Linked DNA regions of Homo sapiens. The protein of the gene in region 2 purifies or fractionates together with the protein of the main gene of each other region. This does not show direct contact. Each region holds a gene or a part of one and is shown on either strand. Other genes may lie near its edges.

The links.
Region 1: the proteins of DGLUCY (region 2) and BOLA3 purify together in Homo sapiens (affinity purification with mass spectrometry; one large-scale study listed by BioGRID and IntAct). This does not show direct contact.

The regions. Positions count from the first base shown.
Region 1 is NC_000002.12:74,141,318-74,145,129, reverse strand, and holds part of BOLA3 (bolA-like protein 3), read left to right. Parts: intron 1-2,769; coding exon 2,770-2,858; intron 2,859-3,812. UniProt on the Homo sapiens protein: Acts as a mitochondrial iron-sulfur (Fe-S) cluster assembly factor that facilitates (Fe-S) cluster insertion into a subset of mitochondrial proteins. Probably acts together with NFU1.
Region 2 is NC_000014.9:91,221,945-91,226,316, reverse strand, and holds the end of DGLUCY (D-glutamate cyclase, mitochondrial isoform b precursor), read right to left. Parts: intron 1,634-4,372; coding exon 1,484-1,633; 3' UTR 685-1,483; downstream 1-684. UniProt on the Homo sapiens protein: D-glutamate cyclase that converts D-glutamate to 5-oxo-D-proline.

The DNA.
Region 1 (3,812 bases), on a different chromosome or scaffold from region 2:
AGAGGGTCAGGGGCTTGGAGGAGGGGGCTTGCTGCTGGTGAGTGGCTTCTCAAGATGTGTTGCTGCTGGACAGGTGGAGCTCGGCTGCCCCCACCTCATGGGATGGCAGTCAGGATTCAGAAATATCAGAGGGAAACTGAGGACAAGGCGCAGCTGGGAGGACTCAAGGTTGCCAGCCTGGCTCAGCTCAGACAAGGTCCCTCTCAGTCACCCTAGAGCTGAGGTCCACAGTCTGTCATTTGACTTTGAATAGGTTTTGCTCTAATTTTCCCCCATTCTTCTGACACCCTAGGATATCAGAGCTGGAGTGGACCCCAGAAAGATTTTCTTCAGCTGCTTTACTTTCCCTAAGAGGAAATGAGCCCAGAGAGGCCAAAGGAATTGCCTAGCTCCTCATAGGGAAGAGACAGTGGAACTGGAACCAGAACCGGGACTCAGGGGAGACTCTGTCCTAAGCCCAGTTACCAGCCCCAGCCAAGCGCTGTCCTTCTCAGGTGGCCACTGGCACCTAGAAGTTCAGGCTGGCAGTGTGTTAGGAGCAGGCTGGAGAAGCAACTTCTGCATCCACAGGATGGGGAAGATAGGCCCTTTATCCACACACACACACACACGTACACACAGAACGGCCCGTGGCGTGGGCCGCTGGATAGGCATCAGTCTGAATCTCTCCATACCCAGAGGCAGCCTTTGCCACTCAGCATTGCCATGAGGGCTCACTGACTTTACTGAGAACATAACATTTCCAAGGATTGAGGAGAAAGTTTAGAAAGTAGATTTTATTCTGGAAACCACAGGAAATAAATCAATCTAAAGATCTGCTGGGGTTTTGGAGCAGTGGCTCATGCCTGTAATCCCAGCACTTTGAGAGGCTGAGGCAGGTGGATCACGAGGTCAGGAGTTCAAGACCAGCCTGGCCAACATGGTGAAACCCCCCCGTCTCTACTAAAAATACAAAAATTAACTGGGCGTGGTGGCACACGCCTGTAGTCCCAGCTACTCAAGAGTCTGAGGCAGGAGACTTGCTTGAACCCGGGAGGCGGAGGCTGCAGTGAGCCAAGATCATGCCACTGCACTCCAGCCTGGGTGACAGAGCGAGACTGTGTCTCAAAAAAAAAAAAAAAAAATCTGCTGGGGCCAGGCGCGGTGGCTCATGTCTGTAATCCCAGCACTTTGGGAGGCTGAGGCAGGTGGATCACCTGAGGTCAGGAGTTCGAGACCAGCCTGGCCAACATGGTGAAACCCCATCTCAACCAGAAATACAAAAAAAAAAAAAAAATTAGCCAGGCATGGTAGCAGGCACCTGTAATCCCAGCTACTCAGGAGGCTGAGGCAGGAGAATCGCTTGAACCTGGGAGGCAGAGGTTGCAGTGAGCTGAGATTGCACCACTGCACTCCAGCCTGGGCGACAAGAGCGAAACTCTGTCTCAAAAAGAAAAAAAAAATCTGCTGGAATGGTACATCAGGTGAGGGCTCTGCAGGAGTCTTGGGGCAATGCTGAGGCCTTGATGTTACCAGGTCCTGAACTTGCCCCAGGCCCAGGGCAGAGTTAGAGCTTGACTCAGCTGTGGCTCTGCGCAGTCCTGGACAGAGTGCAGAAGGGGAGTTGAGGCTGAGAACCTGGGTTTAACCAAAACTTGGACTCCTAGAGCACATTATAAGAAAAACAGAACAGGCCAGGCGCGGTGGCTCACGCCTGTAATCCCAGCACTTTGGGAGGCCGAGGCGGGTGGATCACGAGGTCAGGAGATCGAGACCATCCTGGCTAACACGGTGAAACCCCGTCTCTACTAAAAATACAAAAAAAAAATTAGCTGGGCATGATGGTGTGTGCCTATAGTCCCAGCTACTCAGGAGGCTGAGGCAGGAGAATGGTGTGAACCTGGGAGGCGGAGCTTGCAGTGAGCCCAGATCGTGCCACTGCACTCCAGCCTGGGCGACAGAGCGAGACTCCATCTCAAAAAAAAAAAGAAGCAGAGCAAAGCCTGTTGAGTACGTTGCACCTCTCACACAATGGCCTGGCTCTGTAAATCATGCAGGGGACATATTCTTGCCCATGTTATTTCATGCTAGAGCTGTGTGTTTATCATCAGTCATCAGCACCAGCTCTCCAGCCAGGTGGAGGAAAGCTCAGGCAGGGGGTGGATGGCCCACCAAGCTCTGCCTCGAGGGCTTCACCAAAAAGTTCTCCCCCCAAAAGCCAGGATGAAATCCTGGATGCTGTGCTGTGGACCCAGCAGTGCCAGAGACAGCCCCGAGCAGCTCCATGCATAGCATGTTTGCTGTGTCCCTGGCTCTCATGCTCCCCTGGTTCTTTCCTTTCTTTGGACAGTATTACACAGTTTTCAAACCAAATTGTAGTGTATTTTTGCACTTCAAAAACACTGATTGTTGGTCCTTTGGAAGCTGGAACGCTGAAATTCCGTCCTTCTCATCCTCTTCCGTGGCGTTTATTGGCCTAGTGAAAGGAAACACTCTACACTCCCTAGGTTGTCCATGCTTTGTGCCTTATCTTTCCTGCCCACAAGTGGTAACCCTGGGTGGTGCAGCTGCCTCGCAAAAGGAAGAGCACATTTTGGATTGTGGCAGCCTGTCAGGAGGAGCATGTGGTCAGATTGGAAGCCATGATCTTTTCCTAATGGTCTTAGCAACTTTCCTTTGTGCTGAATGATAATATTCAGACCTTTGGATTGTACAGTACTTCAAGGATATATGGGACCATGGCTGCCATGACTTAATAATTGAAATGCTTTTGAATCATGTTTATTTTAGGAGGTTGTGGGGCGATGTATGAAATTAAAATTGAATCAGAAGAATTTAAGGAGAAGAGAACTGTCCAGCAGCACCAGATGGTTAATCAGGTCAGTAGAGGCAACAGTGCCCCTTGCCACTGGCCTTCAGCCTCCAAAGGGGCCTGCCAAGCAGGGATGGTGGTTTTTGCCGTCAGTTGCAGGAGAGAATAATGCAGTACTGCAATCACGAAACAGGACTCAAGACCTGAGAAAAATCGAATCTGGGAGTATCTGCATTGTGGCAAATAGGAATTTTATTCAAAATTGAAGACAGGCCTCCCAATAGTGATTTTGTATGTCCTCGTATAATGCTACCTATGTTTACTGTTATTGTCACATATTGATGAGTATATCTAAACACAGACACTGCTAAAAGATACATGTTTTTGTAGATCTGAAGAGGGGTTTTTTGGCCTCTCTTTGGGACTGCTTTACAGATGAGTCAGTTGATGCATGGCATGAGTGAGAATGGCTGCAGCTGCCCCAGACCCAATGACAGAACATTTGGGTTCTGGAACATCACGTTCAACCAGCCTAAGGCTCAGTTTAAATATTATCCATATTTATTTTAATTTGGAATTTATACCAACTTTGACCCTTGTACCTGTACCTATGAATTTGCCCCCTCACTGGGTGTGTTTGGCATCGTTCTGGAAGGTCTTGCCATTGTGAACTAGTGTTATTTTTGTAAAGCACAGCACTGGTAATGAGCGTCTCTTCGGTGGCCTCTCATGCATTGAGTTCAGGTGTCCTAGACTGCTGTTCACGCATTTCCCCCCACCCTTCTCTGCGTGCACCCTCCCAGCCGGCCTCTGCCCGCTGGTCTCTCTCTTTCTCTATCTGGGCCTTTGCCCAGATTGGACCTTCTGCCTGGGTTGCCCTTCCTCCCGTCCTCCACTCAGCTCAAATGCTGCCTCCCCTCCCTCCCCAGCAGGGAATGAATGCCGTTCCCCCACCCTCCCCGGCCCCCTTTTTTGGCTGTCGGTGTTTTCCGTCTTGTGTCCTGAAAACGGACATCTCTGC
Region 2 (4,372 bases):
GCCAAAGAAATAATCCCCTGCACTGCAGCCCATACATTTCAATCCCTTTATCTTTAACCTCCTTGTTAAGTTTGTCTCTTCCAGAATCAAAGCTGTAAAACTACAAATAGTTCTTCAAATGGAGCCCCAGATGCAGTCCATGACTAAGATCTACCATGGACCCCTGGACCGGCCTGCTAGCCCATGCTCCGATGTTGATGACATCGAAGGCACCCCTCCCGAGGAAATCTCAACTGCACAACCCCTACTACGCCCCAATTCAGCAGGAAGCAGTTAGAGCAGTTGTCAGCCAACCTCCCCAACAGCACTTGGGTTTTCCTGTTGAGAGGGGGTACTGAGAGACAGGACTAGCTGGATTTCCTAGGCCAACTAAGAATCCCTAAGCCTAGCTGGGAAGGTGACCACATCCACCTTTAAACACAGGGCTTGCAACTTAGCTCACACCCGACCAATCAGAGAGCTCACTAAAATGCTAATTAGGCAAAAACAGGAGGTAAAGAAATAGCCAATCATCTATCGCCTGAGAGCACAGCAGGAGGGACAATGATCGGGATATAAACCCAGGCATTCGAGCCAGCAATGGCTACCCTCTTTGGGTCCCCTCCCTTTGTATGGGAGCTCAGTTTTCACTCTATTAAATCTTGCAACTGCAAAAACAAACAAACAAAAAAAAAGACTTTCACCTTTTCACTTAAAGGAAGCCCTTTATGGCCTCTTTTTGGCATATCCAAATTGCCAGCATCTCTGCTCTTGCACTTTGAGGACATTACTGAGTCACATAAGAGGTTCTTGAATATAAGCACTGCAATACCATGACAGTCGATCTGATCACCTGCTGGGTGACTGGCAGGCGGGTGGTGTAGACAGCACGGGTACCCTGGACAAAGGGAGGATTCACGTCCTAGGTAGGATGGAGCAGGATGGTGTGAGATTTCATCACGATATTCCGAAGAGTACACAATTTAAAACTTAAGAGTTGTTTATTTCTGAAATTTTTCATTTAGTATTTTCGGTCTGCAGTTGGCTATGAGTAACTGAAACCATGAGTAACAGAAACCATGGATGGGGGAGGATGACTGGAGTCTGGAGTATCCTATCCTACATGGCCTGGGAATGTTTGTTCTCATGCTCTGCCTGGCAGTTAATTGTTCACAAGTGTCCCCATAAGTAACTGTCGAGAAGATTCTCACAGGAGACCACGTGGGTTGCCTGAAGAAGCCAGAGTGAAGGAGGGTTGAAATCAACGCCTTTAGAGTCTTAGGAATAAAAGTTAAAAAGCCCCAGAGAAATGTTGTCCTTTGTCCACAGCACCTGCACTAACCCCTCCCAGAAAGTGGGCATGCAGTTTCCCAGGCCAGGCGAGTGTTCGTTGCTCACCGAAGACCAGTGTTTACTAGCAGGATTGTCGCCAGAAGCAGCTGCATTCTCCCCGGATGCAGACCTGCCCGTTGGTAGGGACTCTGCTCACACGGAACATGGACGGTTACACCTGTGCCGTGGTGACGTCCACCAGCTTCTGGATCATCTCGGCGTGGGTGTTGTGGAAGGGCAGCCCATCCACCTCCATGCCCACGATGCCCGAGACGCCACTCCGGACTTTGTGCTGCACCAAGATGCCCAGCATTTTTTCTTCCTGGAAAAAAATAGGGCAGAAATAGAAGGAGTGGAGGGGGAGGAAAAAGAAATTTCTTTTATACACATTTATAAGTGAGAAGGATCCTTTGCCTTGACATACTTGCTTTTTAAAAAAGTAAAATTTTGGTTTAAAGTACTAATACCATTGGAAAAGTCATGAAAAGTAAGTGTCCTCCATCACAGCTCATTGGCCCCCAAATCTACTCCCCAGAAACAATCACGGGAATAGTTTGGGCTGCTTCTTTTGGTAGTTACTGTTATGTAACTAAATAATATGCTTTAATGGAAACATAGTTTCTTAGTTTGATTGTCCGTTTTTAGAGATGGGGTCTTGCTATGTTGCCCAGACTGGTATTGAACTCCTGGCCTCAAGTGATTCTTCTGTCTCAGTCTCCTGACTAGCTGGGACTATAGGTGCACATCACTGTGCCCGGCCAGCCTGCATTTCCTTAACCAACACTGAAGATTCACTCCTCCTGCAGGTGCAGTGCAGGCTATTTCCTGCCAATAAGTTCCTCCCAGCCCTGGATTATCTGCCAATAGTCTTTGTGCCAAAGGCCCCCATTTCTCCTGAGACCTCTTAGCCTAATGTGGGGCATGTGTCAAATCCTGCTGCTGTTGCCTTCTAGAAATGACCAGGGTGACTGTGGGAGTGGGAGCATCTAGGTGTAGCAGAGTCACAGAGAATACAAGCCCCCATCCTGAAGCCGCAGCCCGGGGCCTAGCAGGCAGAGTGGTTTGGGGATCAGAAAGGTCTGACTTGAGTCTTTCCTGGCAGGAATTTTAACTGTTCTGTGCCTTAGTGTGCTTATCTGTAAAATGGGGAGGGTGATGATAAAAGTACTCATCATGCCTCCTTTAGAGGGTTGTTCTGAGGATTACGTACAAGCAAAGCACTTAGCAGGGTCCTTGGCACACAACAGGCATTCACAAAATGAGGTTGATTTTATTGGCAGGGCTAGGTCTTCTGGCCTTTAGCCTAGAGCTTTCTCCCTTTGCTCTCCTGCTGGTTAAAAAAAAAAAAAGTGGTTTGATCCTCCTCCATCCCCCCTCCTTCCAAAAATAAAATCCCAAAGCACCACTTGCCCAAGCCACTAATGTGTCTGTCCCTAGTGAACAGCTCAGGTTCCCCTAAGGACAGTGAGCCTTAAGTGAAGGCATAAAGCAACTCAAACACATCCTTCCCTCTTCTTCTTCTTCCTCCTCCTCCTCTTCCTTCTCCCTGTCTTCTTCCTCCTCCACAACAAAGGCAGGAGGTGAGAGGAGGGGACCTAAGGAATCTAGAATAGGACATTAGGGCGGCTATAAGAAGGCTCTCTCCCTGCTCAGGCATTTGCTCATTCATCCCACCATTGATCAAAGGTTTATTGAACACCTGCTAAGTATGTGTCAGGCCCTGAACCAGGGATACAGTGGTGAATGTGACATGGTTCCTGCCCCCATGGGGTTCACAGTCTAGATGAGTAATCAGGTAGTCATAGTACAGGATGTCACAGCACAGAGCAGGGGCACCCAACCCAGCTTATTGGCATGGTTCAGGGAACATTTTCTGGAGGCAGGGTGTTATGGACTCAATATGTACCCTCAAATTTTGTATGTTGAACCTAATCCTCAATTGTTGGAATTTGAAAGTGGGGTCTTTGGGAGGTAATAAGATTGAGATGAGGTCATGAGTGAGGGTCAGGATGTGAAGTGCTCTTATAAGAAAAAGAGAAACCAGAGCTCTCGCTCTCTCCACCACATGCGGACTCAGCAAGAAGGCGGCCATCTGTAAGCCAGGAAGAGAGTCCCCACCAGTGAATCAAAACTACTGGCACCTTGATGTTGGACTTCCCAATCTCTAGAACTGTGAGAACTAAATTTCTGTTGTTCAAGCCACCTAGTCTATAGTTGTTTTTTAAAATAGCAGCTTGAGCTACGACAAGGGGCAACTAGGATCAGAGGTGATGAAAGAATAAAAATGAGCCAGCTGAGAGCCCTGGAGGGTCACTCACTAACTTTTTCTAAGTAATAGAGAAAGCATTGGCAAATGTTAACTGCAAACTGTCTCTTCACAGCTGGCCTGAGAGCCTGCATTTCTGTTCTGCCCTGGGGGCCAAGAAGGATGTTCCTCTGTAGGAGGGAGGCCCTAAATTGTTTCCACTTTCACATGTGTCCTTTGTCCAACAGCTCCTTCTCAGGAGCTACCCACTCAGAATGGCATTTCCCGCCCTTTGTTTGGGCTTCTTCCTCTCGCTTCTCTTCTCCACTGGTCATATCCTCTCTTTATGGGGGAATGTTTCTGGGACTCCTGGGGCCATTTCCTCACAGCACACTGTTTCCCTCACCATTCTCATCCTTCTGGGCCCCAGGAAGGGCTGTGGGGTCCTCAGGGTGCACGCAATCAGCCAACAGGTTTCGAGCTGACTGGCACCCAGCCTCCAAGAGACACAGGGACCAGCTGGGCCAACAGCTACTCCCTGCAAATTTCCAAGAATCACGGAATGACCATGCCATCTTCTAAGAGGCAGAGGTGGTAACAGTGGCAGAGAATTACCAGGGAGCAGCTGGAGGGCAGGGCGCCTGAAGGCCACTGCACCAGTCCAGGCTGAGACAACAGGGCAGGAGAGGAGGAATGGAGGACCCAAGTGAGGGAGAGTAGACAGGGCTTGGATGGGGACAGAGGCCCCAGGGTGGCTGAGTGTGTGGATGCTGAGTGTGTAGAGGCTGAGTGTATGGGTGCTTGCTATTAAGTCAC